Homo sapiens: one gene and its partner. The protein of the gene in region 2 purifies or fractionates together with the protein of the main gene of each other region. This does not show direct contact. Each region holds a gene or a part of one and is shown on either strand. Other genes may lie near its edges.

Region 1 (4,536 bases), on a different chromosome or scaffold from region 2:
TCTGGGCTCTGCCTCTGTGCCTCCATCTCCCCATTCATCCCCTAAGCCAATTGTTGCTGAGTGCTTGCCTGCCTATCTAGGAGTTCCCAGTGTAGGGTTAAGAGGCTTAGGAACAAAATGACAGGAAGGGCTCCAGGGAGCCTTATCCTCCCAGCTCCAATCACAGGCTCTGTCAGCTGTGGGAAGAGCCTTGACACCCAGACAGGACCAGTGCTCTGGGGACAACAGTCCCTGCCCTAGTCCTCTGCTCCTCACATCTCTCCAGTTGCAGGGAAAAGGGCTGGCATCTGGCCACAGGGAGCCTGAGCCGGCGGCCAGGGTCCAGTGGACCGACTCTGCCCCCTGCTGGCTGAGAAGGGTCCTGCCAGCTCCCAGCCAGAGGTGGCCACCTTTTGGGAGAGGGGGACCCACCCCACTGAAGATGTGCACCCACTGTGTAGCTGACCCTGGGCCAGGTGCTGGACATCAGTGAGGGGAGCTGACCCCCTAACGGCTCATGAAATGTCCTCAAGTTCACTCCTGGCAGTCGAGACTAAGCATTCATTAAACTAATATTGTTGAGCATTTCTAGTGGGCCAGACATTTTATATGCATTACTCATTAATTTCCACAGCAGGTGGATGTTATAATTCCCATTTTATAGATGAGGAAACCAAGGTTATATAACTTGTTTAGGGTCACACAGCTTCTTAGTGGAGAAGCTGGGATTCTAAGCCATGCTTGCTCTGTCTGACTCTAGTGCCCTGTTCTTTCCACAGCCTCAGGAAGCCCAACCAGAGCCGAGGAGCAGAGGTTCTTCGTCAGGGTTGGCAGGGGAGATGGGCAGGGAAGAGTCACAAAGCCGCCGAAATTATATGCAAAACTCTGTGTGTATATGTGTGCGTGTATGTGTGCATGTGTATTATGTGTGTGCATGTATTGTGTGTGTGTGTACATGTGTATCGTGTGTGTGTATGTGTGTGTGCACATGTGTGCATAGTTTTAGGGAAAAGTTCTGTAGCTCTCGCTGCAATTTCTTAGGGGACCATAATCCTAAAAAGCTTAAGAGTCCTAGTTGAATAGAGAAAGTATATTTTCTTGATTCGAAGCCAGGTTTCTGCATTATGATCGCACACTGGCTGGATCAGGATGGGAAAGAAGGCCCCTGATGGGGCTGAGAATTTAAAGCCCCTTGTCTGCCCATGGCCCGGCCTCACCCATGTACTCACGGTCTTGGACTCAGACTGTAGGGTGGACTGGAGACCATGAGCTGGCTGAGAGCTGACACGAGAATCAGGATGAGGATAGGCATCAGCTGCACAAACACCCCTAGCCCGCCCTGGAGGGAAGAGCCAATGTCACTCTGCTGGACCTGGGTGGGGTGTGGTGTCAGCCATAATCACCACTAGCTCCCCTAGAATAGTGGAGCCTGGGGAGACATGACACCACTCTGCCGTTCCCTCCACGAGGCTCCAAAACACAGACGCTCCTTCACCTGCCAGCTTTCCCAGATAAAAACAAAGCAGCAACTGGTGTGAAATACAGGAGGAAGTGAGGTGTCTGCATTTACTTTTGACAGAATGCCAAAAAAAAAAAAAAATCAGCAAAAGTTGCTTCCTCCAGGAGAATGGAAGGCAGGGCTGGAAGGAGACATGCAGTATATACAAGTTTTTGAGATGTGAACCACACAAATATATTACCAATTTAAACATTATGGCCAGTGTGGCGGCTCATGCCTGTAATCCCAACACTTTGGGAGACCAACATGAGAGGAACACGTGAGGCCAGGAGTTCAAGACCAGTCTGGCCAACATACACCCCCATCTCTACAAAAAATAATAATTAAAACAAAATAAAAATTAGAAATAGCACTGGTTCTAGGGTGCAGAAAAAGCAAACAAACAAAAAAAGAAGAATTAGAAATAAAAATTAACAAATATATTCACTGTGTGATAATCTGTGATGTTAAACTCTTCTGTTGTTAGATACAAAATAAAAAAATTTTGATCAGGGGCAATGGCTCATGCCTGTAATCCCAGCACTGTGGGAGGCTGAGGCAGGAGGACCACTTGAGCCCAAGAGTTTGAGACCAGCCTGTGCTCAAACAGCAAAGTAAGACCCTATCTCTACAAAAAATACAAAAAATTAGCTGGGTGTGGTGGTGTGGGCCTGTGGTCCCAGCTACTGGGGAGCCTGAGGTGGGAGCTTTGCCTGGGAGGGGAGGCTCCTGCACTCTAGCCAGGGTGACAGAACGAGACCCTGTCTCAAAAAAAAAAAAAAAAGGCCGGCATGGTGGCTCACGCCTGTAATCCCAGCACTTTGGGAGGAAGGGGCAGGCAGATCACGAGGTCAGGAGTTCGAGACCAGCCTGGCCAACATGGTGAAACCCCGTCTCTACTAAAAATACAAAAATTAGCTGGGTGTGGTGGCGGGCGCCTGTACTCCCAGCTACGTAGGAGCCTGAGACAGGAGAATCACTTGAACCTGGGAGGCAGAGGTTGCAGTGAGCCAAGATTGTGCCACTGCACTCCGGCATGGGCAACAGAGCGAGACTCCATCTCAAAAAATTAAAAAAAAAAAAAATTGAATAAATATTGTCAGAGCAAAAGGAAACCCCTTCCGCCTGGCCAGAATTTAAAATGTTTTGCAATTGTCCACAATATTTTAATTTTAGCCAGCTAGCTGTTCTTTGATCTGTGGCATACAAAATGTGTTTGAAGCACTGTCTAGTTATAATTTTTATACTTTTTTTTTTTTTTGAGACGGAGTCTTGCTCTGTTGCCTAGGATGGAGTGCAGTGGCACGATCTCGGCTCAACACAACCTCTGCCTCCTGGGTTCAAGTGATTCTCATGCCTCAGCTTCCCGAGTAGGGATTAAAGGCGCCTGCCACTACGCCCAGCTAATTTTTGTATGTTTAGTAGAGACGGGGTTTCACCATGTTGGCCAGACTGCTCTCAAACTCCTGACCTCAGGTGATCTACCCACCTTGGCCTCCCAAATTTTTGTAAATATCTTTTTAAAAGTATCTTTTGGCTTTTTAGCAAGAAGAGTCGGCACCTATGTTGTCATCCTTTAAAATTCTCTCAGTGGCAGAGCGCAGTGGCTCACGCCCATAATCCCAGCACTTTGGGAGGCTGAGGCGGGTGAATCACCAGAGGTCAGGAGTTCAAGGCCAGCCTGGCCAACATGGTGAAACCCCATCTCTACTAAAAATACAAAATTAGCCGGGGGTGGTGGCACGCACCCGTAATCCCAGTTACTCGGGAGGCTGAGGCAGGAGAATGGCTTGAACCCGGGAGGCGGAGGTTGCAGTGAGCCGAGATCGCGCCACTGCACTCAGCCTGGGCGAGAGAGCAAGACTCCATCTCAATTAAAAAAAAAGAAATTTCTCTCACAAAGTTGAGAGAAAATAGCTGAGACCCATGAAAAAAATGAAAAATAAAATAAAATTCTCTCACAAAGTGTAACTTTCCATTGCTTAGAGGATGTCACTTTGGCCTTACCAGCGAGCGGTCTGCATGGGAGCCTCACACTCAAACCTGGCTGTGGGTGGGGTTTCTGGTTCCACTCCCCAGCCAGGCCAGCAAAGCCGCGCTCCCGCCGGCAATGTGGAGCATGGCTCCCTCGTGTGGCGCCCTCTGGTGTCACTCAGCAGAATGGCAAGGGAGGCCCAGAGGGCTCCTTGGCTGAGAGTTATGGGGACTCTGCTGGTCCCAGAATGGACAGTGTGGGAGGGAACACCCTCCTCCAAGCCCCCTCCCTGGGGTGGATTTGGTGCCCTTCCCGCGCTGTCCCTGGCGCCCTCCTCACTCACATCACCCTGGTTGTCCCTGCGGTCCTGCCTTTGCTGGTAGGTATAGCGCATGCGGCCGTTGCTGTAGACGTGGACGTTACCTGGGGGTCAGAGGGGCTGAGTCAGGAGCCAGGTCTGTTGGGAAAGGGAGAGGCTGGCATGCCATTCCCACCATCACCCCAGGGATACCTGGCTGTGGGGAGGGTGGGGAACTTACTAGAAGGGAAGCCGCCGCCAAAGAACATGTTGAAGAGGTCTTCAGGGGAGATGTCGGCCTCAAAGCCACGGTGGAAATCCCCATGCCCATGGCCGTGCCGGGCCGCCTGGCTCTTGTCATCGCCGAACTGGTCATACTGCTTCCTCTTCTCCGGGTTGCTGAGTACCGCATATGCTGTGCCAATGGCTGGAGAGGAGGAGGAAAGGTCAGGCCTGAGGATCCTGGGGTGCGGGGGGAGGCTCCCATGGCAGCCGAGTGCTCACTTTTCTCAGGTACTCAAGCAGTGCTTTAGGAAGCAGACGTCCTTGGGGTGGGCAGGAAGCTTGGCCAGTGTAAGGAGGGGGCATGCAGGAAGACCCCTCAGTGGATCTGGGCAGCCTGGCTGGGTGGAGGGTAACACAGGCTCCTTGTTCTCCTCAAGACAATGGTCAAGCTTTGTCAATGTGCCAGGCCTCCTAGGAGTGTGGCCTCATTTACTTCTTTTTGTTTGTTTATTTTATTTTTTGAGGCAGGGCCTCACTCTGTCACCCAAGCTGAGTGCAGTG
Region 2 (6,015 bases):
TCACCGTGTTAGCCAGGATGGTCTCGATCTCCTGACCTCATGATCTGCCCGCCTCGGCCTCCCAAAGTGACTAAAATAGTCCTTATGAGTTAACTATAGTTTCCAAGAATAAACTATCTCCTATTAAAATTATCAGCTTTAGTTCTAATATGTAGGTATTCATTTTAGTAAAATGGGCTAATTCTTGATGGTAGTTTAAAAAAAAAAAACACACAACCCTACTAACAATAGCCTACTATGTGCAGATGAGCAATCTAGTACCATGATAGAAATCCATAGGAAAAGCCCTGCCAAGACCCTGAGGACATTAAAAACAAAGAACAAAAAACAAGACCTGCCTCTGTAAAATTCAGTGAATATTTTGTGCAGTTAACATTTCATGTATCTGTTTCTAAACAAGTCCTTCCAAACCACACAGGCACTGGCCCTTCTGTACATATATTCATCAAACAGTTACAAGATAAGTTTTTTTCTATAAGAAAATGTTTTTCCTTATTTTTCTAAATATATTCTCAGACATGCTGCTTTTTTTTTTGAGATGGAGTCTCGCTCTGCCACCCAGGCTGGAGTGCAGTGGCGTGATCTCAGCTAACTGCAACCTCCCCTTCCTGGGTTCAAGCAATTCTCTGCCTCAGCCTCCCGAGTAGCTGGGATTACAGGTACTGGCCACCACGCCCGGCTAATTTTTGTATTTTTAGTAGAGACAGGGTTTCACCATCTTGGCCAGGCTGGTCTTGAACTCCTGACCTTGTGATCCACCCACAGGCTCCCAAAGTGTTGGGATTACAGGCATGAGCCACCGTGCCCGACCATTGCTCATGTTTAAGTGTGCATTTTTTAGCTTTAAATTTTGGGGTTTTTTCAGCCTGCTTTGTACCTGCAGGAATAACTTTGTTTTTAACATTAATCAGTGTGAGTATAATTTATTTGTGGTATTATTATACCACCCACTGTCATTTGTACCTTTCGTTTCTCATATCTCCCTTACCCTCTTCCCAAATTTTCCCTTATGTTTCCCCTTCTGCCTTTCTGCCTTTTAAGTGGTATCAGAGATACTGCACAGACCAACCTGTAATTCTCAGAGTTGCAGAGGCTGCCACCTGAAACTGTGTCAGGGTGTATGTATTCTGACTCCTAAAAAATCACCTAAGGCTTCTAAAGAACAAAATTAAATATTTAAGAAAATCCCTAGGAAAACTAAGATAGGAAAAACAAGGTGAAGCTACAGGTAAAGTTAGCACTCCAATGCATGCCATAGCTCCTTCACTTTGATAAAGATGGGCATCAAATCGGCCCCTAAGCTACCAAGCAGCCATCACAAAATAGGAGATAGGTGGTTAAATGATTCAGGTTTCTTGAGGTGAAAAACACATCAGTTGTATGGGAGAACCACAGCTATTCTGGATACTGAAACCCAGGAGAAATTTCTCCCCCAAGTCCTTATAAAGCAAATAGTGTGATATAATGAACCATGTCCTCAACAACATCCCTACAGTAAATAATGAGTTTCACGGGGTTAAGTGGCATAGTTCAGTTACAACAATTATAGAAGGGCACAGCTTCTATTATAAAGTAACGAATATCTCATAGCAAAATGTTCAATACTTAAAAACACATCTCATCTTCCCAAAGGTCAGGACAAAATGAATCTGTACTGGCCAAAGCAAATCCTTTCAGTATATAATTAAGTATAATTGAATCCCTTAATGAAAACTTCCTTTTACGATATCATTCAACAGATTTACTGAATTAAACCATCTTTAAAAAACCAGAAGTGATCCAGCAATCCCACTGCTGGGTATATACCCAAATGGAAATCAGTATACAGAAGAGATATCTGCACTCCCATGTTTGTTCCAGCACTGTTGACAATAGCTAAGATTTGGAAGCAACCTAAGCGTCTATCAACAGATGAATGGATAAAGAAAATGTGGTACATACATACAATGGAGTACTATTCAGCCATTAAAAAAGAATGAGATCCTGTCATTTGCAACAAAGTGGATGGAACTGGAGATTATTATGTTAAATGAAGTAAGTGAGGCACAGAAAGGAAAACATTGCATGGTCTCTTATTTGTGAGAGCTAAAAATTGAAACAATTGAACCCACGGACATAGAGAAGGATGGTTACCAGAAGCTGGGAAAGGTAATGGGGCCTGGGTGGGGGAGGGGGAAAGTGGGGCTGGTTAATGGGTATAAAAAATGAATAAAACCTACTACTTGAAAGCACAACAGGGTGTCTATAGTCAATAATTGTACATTTTAAAATAACAGAAAGAGTATAACTGGATTGTTTGTAACACAAAGGATAAATGTTTGAGGGGATAGATGCCCCATTCCCAATGTGATTAACATTGTATGTCTGAATCAAAACATCTCATGTGCCCCATAAATATATACACCTACTGTGTACTCACAAAAAAAGAATTTTTTAAAAAATCAGAAGTGGGGATTCCGCAGTCCCACATGCTAAATGCTAAGGGGCATAGGCAGCATGACATGTTTGATACATACATACTATTTGATACATATATATATTTGATACATACTCATATATATCATATGTCTAATTTTCTTTAAGTACCCAAAGTGAGTAGATAGACCGTTTTGAAAGTGGCTCCCAGAGGCCGGGCGCGGTGGCTCACGCCTGTAATCCCAGCACTTTGGGAGGCCGAGTCGGGCGGATCACGAGGCGAGGTCAGGAGATGGAGACCATCCTGGCTAACACGGTGAAACCCCGTCTCTACTAAAACAAAAAATCAGCCGGGCGTGGTGGCGGGTGCCTGTAGTCCCAGCTACTCGGGAGGCTGAGGCAGGAGAATGGCGTGAATCCGGGAGGCGGAGCTGACAGCCGAGATCGCGCCACTGCACTCCAGCCTGGGTGACACAGCTAGAGTCCGTCTCAAAAAAAAAAAAAAAGAATAAAAAAGAAAGTGGCTCCCAGAAACCATGATGGCGCCAACAACCTTTCAGGAGGCAGTTAGCAGTTGGTGCTACCAAAGGTGGGGACAGCGGCCATGCACTCCATGATCCCCCGTCCCACTAGTTCTCACCCCGACTTTGGGAACGTGTGGGGCCAGGGACGCTAAACGTCCTACAGTTCAGTTCCCCACAAAGAACTGTCCTAAGCAAGCTGAGAAAAGTCAACGGGTAAAATTGTCACAAACACTATTAGGGTTATTTAAAAGCGACAGCTTAATAATTCTTCCCAGATCTCTCCTATCACCAATACTGGTCCACCACTGGCGGAATTTAAATCCTGCCCCGCCCAACTGTAAACGTCCATGCGCCCACTACCACAAGGGTAACGCCTTAAGCGAGAAATACGATGCCTTTCAGGATGCCAGCGGGGACTTCGGAGCCATAGGTAACCGCACTCCCCGACCTCTCCCTAAAGAACCTCCGGGATGTGGGCCCCCGCTGTGTCAGTGCTCGTTTTGCGCTAGGTCTGTTTGGGAGAGACGGGAGTGAAATGTAGGAGGCTGGGCGTGCTCACATCGCCTGGACTTGTCCAAGAGAGGCGGGCGACGGACCCACCGAGGCCTCAGATTCGGCAGCTGGCCGTCTGGTCGCCGCACTCCCCGGTGTGGGCCGGGGCCGCCCCACAGGCCCCCCACCCCCGACTCTGAGGACCCTCCGCCTGCCCCGACGACCTCTCCCACTGCGAGAGACTCCCTGAGACATAATGGTCTCCGAGGCCGCAGGGTGCGCCTTTTCTCCAGATTCTCCCCACCTGCTTTCCGGCCGCGCTCTTAAGAGCTTCCTCGTTGCCCCCTTGCCGGCGGCTCCTGAGGAGACTTGGCGCTTGCGAGCGTTTTTATAGCCCCGCAGGCATCGGGGCGTGCATCACGAAGCTCCGCATCACAAAGCTCCGCACCACTCAAGGAGGCGGGGCCACAGCGGCCGCAGCCAATGGGGAGCCGAAAGCGACAAAGGCCATGATTTGGCCGGCGAGGGAGACTTATTTCCCCTTTTCTGGCTAAATCTGAACGGATTTAGGTGATTTCCCAACAAATAGCCAGGAGTAGCTCAAAGCGACTGCCTCTCCGTCTTTGGTCGTTGAGCTTAAAATTAGAGCTCGTTTGGAAAGAAAGTAAGAGATTTATGGCAGTGCTGTCTTGTCACTGCCTCGCCATTCCACACATTGCTCCTGGCCCCATAAACTATAGCTCTCTTCGGTCACCTTTAGGAATAATAATTTCTGCCACGTTGTAGACACACAGTGAATAATTGTATGCAACAGAGCACTTTTTCTTTTGTGAAACTCGCCTGTGGAATGGGAGTTCAGCATGAATCCAGAAACTTCCTGTTTCTCCACAGTTGAGATCAGACACCAACTATCCCCACAAAGCACACCGTCAGCAACAAGTCAAGGTGTTACTGTGTGTAACTTCAGCTCAATTTTACCAAACTAAAGGAATACTGCTTCATTTAAAAACGCCCACTCTGCCGGGCACGGTGGCTCACGCCTGTAATCCCAGCACTTTCGGAGGCCGAGGCGGGTGGATCACGAGGTCAGGAGTTCAAGACCAGCCTGGCCAAGATGGTGAAACCCTGTCTCTACTAAAAATACAAAATATTAGCCGGTCGTGGTGGTGGGTGCCTGTAATCCCAGCTACTCTGGAGGTTGAGGCAGAGAATTGCTTGAACCTGGGAGGCGGAGGTTGCAGTGAGCCCAGATCACACCACTGCACTCCAGCCTGGGCTACTGAGCGAGACTCCGTCTCAAAAAAACAAAAAACAAAACAAAAAAAACAAAAAAACGCCCACTCTCTGCTCTTTCACTCATTTAGGCTCAGGTATTTGGGCTGGGCTCTAAATAACACCATAATCATGATTATCAGAGTACAAGCAGCCTTAATTTTGATCCATCTTCAAATGTTTAAAAAGCAACTACTTTAAACCAAAGAGCATCGCCAGGGCAGATATCTGACCAAAAACAAAACAAAACAAAACAAAAACCAAACCAAAATAAAACAAAACCCTATTTTTTAATTCAGAAAAAATTAGGGCTTCCAGAGCACTTTGCAATAAAAGCAATGTTAAGGCCTCAGTCAGCATTATCTGGTGCCATTCATTAATCCACTTAATAATTATTTTACTGAGTGCCAGGAAAGCTCCCTCTTCTCGGGAAGTTTACATACTTAAAAAGGGAGAATTAGCGAGACTCCGTCTCACAAAACAAAACAAAAAAAAGGGAGAAATGCTTTTAGACTGAGTATGTTGGTGGGTCTGCAGATATTTTTCATCCTTCATCACTTGCCTCCAGCACCACTTTGGTAATGTAAATAAAAGTGAGATGAGGCTGTCATGATTTCTGATAGCTTGGTTTATAACACATTTAGGTGTCAGAGACATAATGAACTGAGCTACTGAAAATCCTAAGTACCTCATCTATGGTGTCTTTTGGAATTGGAGACATTTATGGTTTTTTTAACGTAACCTTGGTGGGTCATCTCAAACATCTATTAGGTGTAAGGTATTATGCAGAAATACCTGTAACTCAAAAAACAAGATTTTACTCTCCATTTCTTCAGTGACTGTTTGGCTGAGTCATTCTGAAATGCAAATTGTTACAATGTAAACATCTAACCAAGAATTTTCAAACCACTGCCCATCGCTGCTTTGATTTCTTGAACTCTTAATGATTTGATGTGGTTTCACAATCTTGGCTTGTGTTCATCTCCCTTTCAATCACCAGTATGTTATTTTTTGGTCACCAATGATTTAAAACGCAAATGTACCTTCCACTGCCCCTCTCCCACACCCCAAATCCTTACCCTATGGAAGTCCATGGTTGTGGGTGTGGCCTCTGCATACCTCTCGTATTTCATGTCTCACCATGTGATTCCCACTTGACCCTCCAGAGTCTTGAACACACATGTCGCTTATCACCTCTGTGCTTTTGCTCATTAGGTCCAAGGCCTTGGATGCTGCTCCAGCAAGTGTTTTCACCTGACTGCATCCTGCTTCTCCTTTAGAACTCATCTCAGAAATCTCCTACTTTAGGAAG

Evidence for each region.
Region 1: the proteins of CABYR (region 2) and DNAJB12 purify together in Homo sapiens (affinity purification with mass spectrometry; one large-scale study listed by BioGRID and IntAct). This does not show direct contact.

Annotation. Positions count from the first base shown.
Region 1 is NC_000010.11:72,336,994-72,341,529, forward strand, and holds part of DNAJB12 (dnaJ homolog subfamily B member 12), read right to left. Parts: intron 4,178-4,536; coding exon 3,992-4,177; intron 3,876-3,991; coding exon 3,796-3,875; intron 1,319-3,795; coding exon 1,209-1,318; intron 1-1,208. UniProt on the Homo sapiens protein: Acts as a co-chaperone with HSPA8/Hsc70; required to promote protein folding and trafficking, prevent aggregation of client proteins, and promote unfolded proteins to endoplasmic reticulum-associated degradation (ERAD) pathway.
Region 2 is NC_000018.10:24,136,839-24,142,853, reverse strand, and holds the start of CABYR (calcium-binding tyrosine phosphorylation-regulated protein), read right to left. Parts: upstream 3,793-6,015; 5' UTR 3,736-3,792; exon of another isoform or gene 3,499-3,735; intron 3,371-3,498; exon of another isoform or gene 3,335-3,370; intron 1-3,334. UniProt on the Homo sapiens protein: May function as a regulator of both motility- and head-associated functions such as capacitation and the acrosome reaction. Isoform 1 binds calcium in vitro. Isoform 2 and isoform 6 probably bind calcium. Isoform 3 and isoform 5 do not bind calcium in vitro.